Linked DNA regions of Homo sapiens: region 2 is linked to region 1. The links come from fine-mapping of genetic effects on gene expression. Tissue or cell type: whole blood. Region 1 holds a variant in brackets; the other region holds the start of a gene. All regions are shown on one strand. Distances are from middle to middle. Region 1 overlaps CRYBG3 (crystallin beta-gamma domain containing 3). Region 2 holds the start of RIOX2 (ribosomal oxygenase 2).

The links.
Region 2: RIOX2 starts here. The variant in region 1 is fine-mapped to the expression of RIOX2 in whole blood (INTERVAL, PIP 0.94).

Annotation. Positions count from the first base shown.
Region 1 is chr3:97,932,918-97,935,832 of GRCh38, reverse strand. It overlaps CRYBG3 (crystallin beta-gamma domain containing 3), which reads right to left. Exons shown (of 22, transcript NM_153605.4): 18 at 2,000-2,139. Among named protein-coding and RNA genes, the nearest start is that of RIOX2, 38 kb to the left of the region's middle. The variant TA/A (reference allele first, on the strand shown) is at 1,132.
Region 2 is chr3:97,970,893-97,973,807 of GRCh38, reverse strand. It overlaps RIOX2 (ribosomal oxygenase 2), which reads left to right and starts at 1,377. Exons shown (of 10, transcript NM_153182.4): 1 at 1,377-1,427. LOC124909398 (a long non-coding RNA gene) reads right to left here and starts at 1,155. Exons shown (of 2, transcript XR_007095976.1): 1 at 1-1,155. RefSeq lists a silencer at 1,193-1,632 and an enhancer at 1,903-2,162.

The sequences.
Region 1 (2,915 bases):
GCCTTGTGGATGAAGCAAAGAGCACCAGCAGCAGGCAAGGTAGTCTGCTTATCAGATGGACCAGAGCTCAGGAACAGGGTCATCCAGGGCTTAGGACACAAGCTACAGAGGGTTGCTTGTGCTGCTATGGCAGCAACTTCAGCCCCTCGATTTTCCAGATTAAAAACTTCTAAAATTCACAAAGTGCAATATTCCTTAGGGACTTGTTCTTCAGGTAATGCAGGAAAAGATACCAACTTGAGCATAAGTTGTGGGGAGAAGGGGAGAGCTGAGGAAAGCTTGATGTATTACAGCTATGAAAGCTTGGGTAGGGATGACTGACTCAACCTGACCACCACTAAGAAAAGTCCTCCTTGCTCCCCACAACCAAGATCAGACTTGACCAAATTATGGAGAGATGAATGAGATGGATGGCCCATTCTTGACCCCTCCTTCCTACACAAATCTAATCAATCAGACTGGTGGAGAGGCAGGTCAGCATGACCACGGACAGGCTTAGCTGCCTCTCCCGCTGCAGATTCTTTAAACTGTCAGGGAAGTTTCAGTTATAAAATCTAGGTAAGATTTTAGGAAAATGTACCTAATTATATATTGATTTAAATGAATTCCACAGTTGGAAAACTGTGTGGGATGGTGCATTTAAGCATGGCTGTCATCATCACAGATCAAAGATGTGGCATAGCATGGGGATTAAAACAAACCCAACTTGTAACTAAGGGAAGCTGGCTGTACATTAAGTAGTATTCTGTAACCTAGGAAAATCCTTAGGCAGCCTTCACTGTTCCTTACTCCATGTTCCAATTCTCTTAAAGAGAATTTGGAATAGTGAGAGTAGGTGGCTAATAAGCCAAAGAGAAGAAATAAGAATGTCAAGATAAAATGGCACCAGTGTTCCAGAAAAAAATGAAATAAGAAAGTGAGAAATTTTCAGAAGTGAGTCAAGTATCAATTTCACTCAGAAATGGGAAGAAATGAATTAAAATGTTGTGAAAGACCTATATCACAGGGATGTAAAATTTAGTTAATTGGTAAATAATATATTGGAATCTTATGCTTAGATAGAATAAATCAATTTGTCTGAATAAACATCAAACCATTTAAAATGTTTTGCAGAAGAAAACTTAAGCTATT[TA/A]TACAAGTGTATAATATAAAAGCCATTTATTATAATAGTTTGCTTAATTTTCACCTCCACTTATATTATTGGCTTTCTCTTTATCCCCAGATATTTAAACCAGCACAGTTGATTATCACGGAATTTCAAAGCCATAGAAAAACTTTTAAAGCCATTTTTTTATTAACCGTCAAGAGCTATGTGTGTTTTTTTAGTTGACTTTTGCTACCAGAACACTAACAGTGCAGGAGTAGGGGCTGGTTTATATGCCGGACTCTTCAGAACTGGATTCAGAGGCAGATTTTCCAGGAAGCAAACAGAGCTTCAACTTCAAGGCCCCTCACTTACAGGCTTCTCACCATTTCTGTCCTAAGTATTCACATTGATATCTAATATTTCTATCATAATTTTAAATTTTTTCTTAAAGGCAGCTTTCTAATTTGTAAAAGCACAGGCCCCTGGGTCTACCCTGACTGACTGATAACCTAAATGAACAACAATACTGGTAGGCAGGCTAGGCCAACCAGTGTAGTCCACAGGCAAGTGAGTACCCTGGAGGAACTGCTCTAGAATACATGGCTATTAAATCAAAAAACAACATCGAACTTGGTCTTGCCAGCAGTCACTTGCCTTAAGCAGGAAATTGTCTTAACCAAAGTTGCTGGGATATTGAAATTTCTTCTGAAAAGAAAGTTCAACTGGGTAAAGTCATTTGATTGACCTACTCTATGACACATGCTGTGACCATATGGTAGCCCTTCTCTTCCAAAGGGCTCTTCCTCAAGACCACTTGAATGCGTACTACTACACAGTGGACTTGGTTTGCAACTCTGCAACTCTGTCTTAAAACAGTAACTGAACCAGACCAAGCCTTTTTCCCATACTTACAGTCCACTTTTTACCCACACAGACTGGGTGTAGAAGTGTAGGTCCTTGTTCAGAACAGAGTTCACAGCCTCTTCTAGATGTAACTCTCTTCCCTCACAATGCTCCAGAGCAAAAAGGCTGATGGAGGGTTCTTCAAAAACCTATTAGCAGAAAAAGAAAGCGTCACCATAGGAGTGGCCATATCTCAGTGACATCCCAGTCTGAACACAGGGTACCCTGAATCCATTGTATTCTTAAATGCATGGAGTTTACTGTTTTACTCTCTAAGGTTGCTATAGTCAAAACTGCACTGGAAAGATTAGATTTTATTAATAATTTTTGTTCACTTTTTTGTAAACTAAAATTCAAGTTATCAGAAAAGCAATCAATCTCATAATAAAAACAGCCATAATAAAGAGACCCATGATTCCAAATCACAGATTAAGGTCTTGTGGTACTGTAATATGGACCATAATTAGTCCTGCCAATGCTTTTAGCTGGCAACAGAATAAATATGGAATGGAATGGCACCCTAATTTCTAGGAGGTCACAGGAGCAGTCACTAGGAATGTAAGACTCTGTGGTGGTAAGCTCTTAAAAATATTCCTAGGAGGAAGAATAAAGGCATTTTTAATTTAAAAAAAGCTGAAATGCACAAGAATGGTGGTGATTTCTGCATTAAAAGTATTTCTTCAACCCATCATGTCAGACAAGAATAGACTCAGTATTGCTTTTTCATTCATTAATGTATGCAAGACACCATGTTAAGAGACTTTTGGGGGGATGATAAAACAAGGCACCATCTATCCTTGTGTCTGGGGAATTACTAACAAATAGTTAAATTAAAACTGTACAGATATTGTAATGTAATCCAGTGCAGAAAAAGATATGCTGTGTCAGAGTCCTCAGTAGAAAGCTAGATTATTTTTAGCAGAAG
Region 2 (2,915 bases), 38 kb before region 1:
TATCTGAATCCCGGGAACAGCAATATTATTCTATATTATCTTGAGTAGATGTCTTGCAGTCAAAATAAAGAGCGAAGTACATTACCAATATCATATCAACTAGAGATTTTTGCTGTTGACTATTCTTTTTTACCCTGTAAGGGCTAAATTTGATGTTACCCTCGAGTTTTTCCAACTGGAACCTGCCAGGAAACTTACTAGTTATACGAGTATTAGTAAAACGTGAAAAAGACCAACAGTTGACTGACTGGTTTGGCTCTAATCTTGTTTCTGCATCTTCCTAGCTGTGTGATCTTGTGCAAGTTAGTTAACCTCTCCTGACTCAGTTTCCTCAACTGTAAAATGGAGGTAATTGCAAGGTTGTAGTGAGGATGAAGTGAGGAGTATTTGAAACACCTAGCGTGGTGCCTTATAGCCAGGAAGAACTCAATTCAAGACTTGCTATTATTGTTAGTTTTAGACAAATACTAGACAAGGGTGTACTTTGTTCCCATTTGTTCATGTGCCACTTGATCCTTAGAAGCAGCCACTGGTCTCAGTCACCTTGACGGAACGAAATGTCGACTTCCTCTGGGTCCTCTGGCTGTCTACAGAGCAAAGAAAGGCACAGGCCCGCCACTGATTTCCCTGCTCCCTCATTTGTGCCTCCTGACTGGAACCAAATGTTCCAAAGCAGGGAGTGTTAGGCTGAAAGGACTCAGATAACTGCATTTCTTCTGTTTCTATAGCCATAGTCGCAACGAATTTCCAGTATCTTTTAAAACTAGGATTGACTCTCTCTCCCGGAGCGAGATGATATAAATGACACTCGGCTTGTACAAATCAGCATTGTGTAGCCACACAGCCCATAAGAAAGCCATGGGAGAACCCGGACCACCAACTCCCTAAACTTGCACCGCTGGTATTCCTCTTCAGGCCTGCTTCTCTATTCATAAAAGGAACGGAGTTGCACCAAAACGCTCTCTCAAATCCTCTCCTGCCGCCCCAAGTTAAAAGAAAAAAAAGGAGAGCCGGGTGGGTGGCTCACACCTATAATCCAGCACTTTGGGAGGCCGAGGCAGGAGGATCGCTTGAGCCCGGGAGGTAAAGGTTGCAGTGAGCCAAGATCGCTACCACTGCACTCCAGCCTGGGCGAGAGTGAGACCTTGTCTCACATACCATAAAAAAAAAAAAAAAAAAAAAAAAAAAAAAAAAAAGAGGAAAAAAAAGGCCATTTATTTCCTTCCATATGGACTAAAGAAACGCCCGGGCGTGAACGCGGAACACCGCCGGGTAGCCAGGCCTCCGGGCTGCCACCACTTGCGGGCCGGCGTGGCGGGGCGGGGCGGGGGCTGGAGCACGGCCCGGAGCGTGCCCACGCTGCCCCGCCTCCAGCCGCTGCGCCGCAACGCAGTGGGCTCGCGGCCGCGAGCAACAGGCCGTGCCGGGTGAGTGGGGCGCTCTCGTGGGCATCCCAGCGCCGGGGCAGGCCGGGTAGTGCCCGATCCCGCGGGGCGCGCGCTGCTGCTTTAGGCACCCGGGCTCGGGTGCGGGTCTGGGAGACCTGTCGGTCGGCGAGAAGCCTCGGTGGCCGGCGCTGTGGTTGCGGGACCTGGGACGCGCTCCCAGGCGTCCCACCTCCCCGGAGACTGGGGCAGGGTGGGTGGGGCCCGGATCTAGGGGTAGGGTCGCGGAAGCCTTGGTTACAGAGAGTCGCACACGTGGCCTGCTAATGGTCGCGACACCGGTGACGAGCGCACGGAAAGTTTGGAGGCTTAGCAAGGAGGGTGGTGCCGGCCTCCGCCCGGTGGTGGCAGAACTGCCTGTGCGAGCACGGCTTCCACGTGGGCTGCGCCGCCGGGCGTCATGTCGGGCCTAAGAGACACGCTCTACAGCTGTGAAATCTGAAGTTCAGGTGTGTGGGGAGAAGGGCAGCTGCATTACATCATATGCTTCCAATTCATTTACCAGCAAATAATTCCGCAACGATTGGCCGACAGCTGGGTTGTCCAACAGGTTACTGAGACCAGGTTATTCACTGTTTTCAGGAAGGATAGACTGGGAGGAAGAGGATCTGATTTCGCCACTCATTAGCTGTAAATCTGGTGCCTCGGGTTTCATGTCACTGGGCTCATCTTTGAGCAGAGGAACCTGATTTACTCAGCTTCTTCTGCTGGTACTGGTTTTTGCCTCCTGGACATCAAGCTTTGTAACCTCATGGTCACGAAAATACATTGAGGTATAGTCCGTTTCCTCTCTAAAATCAGACTAAAAAGATAACTGCTGATCACTCCTTTAGGTCAATAGGAGAACCAGTTTTCCCTCTGGATTGATTAACATATCTCTGAGCCAAAAAGAAATGTTTTAGATCAGTCTGGGCAACCTTGTTACAAGCAATATATAATTTCTGACAGCCGTGTGTTTAACTGAGCTGCGTTTGACTGTTGTCCTCCATTAGTGGACCTAAAATTCATCTAGAGAGCGTATTACGTTAATGCAGATTATGGGCCTCAGCCATCAGAAGTGGCAATCCAGTGGGCTTGATGAGGGCCCAGAAATTTGCATGCTAACAACCTTGCTGGTAACTCTGAACTACATTCTGTAAAACTGCCCAGGGGATGTAGAAATTCATACTTCCCTCCCCGATTTAGTAATAACTACTGATGTCTAAAGTGCCTTTTAGCTTTTACGATACTCTTGAATCCTGAAGTGACAGCTGCAATCAGAAAAATAATCCCCTCTGCACAGGCCATCTGTTTTTTCCGTAACTGTTTTGTGTAAGGCCTTTGTGGTTTGTCTCCAAAATTGTATACAGACAAAAGATGAAAATGTGAAAAATTCAGCAGACATTTCTTGAGGACCTCCTATGTACCACACCGTGCTTGTTTCCGGGGATATACAAATCCTTTCCTTCAAGAGCTTCCTCACGTCTTCAT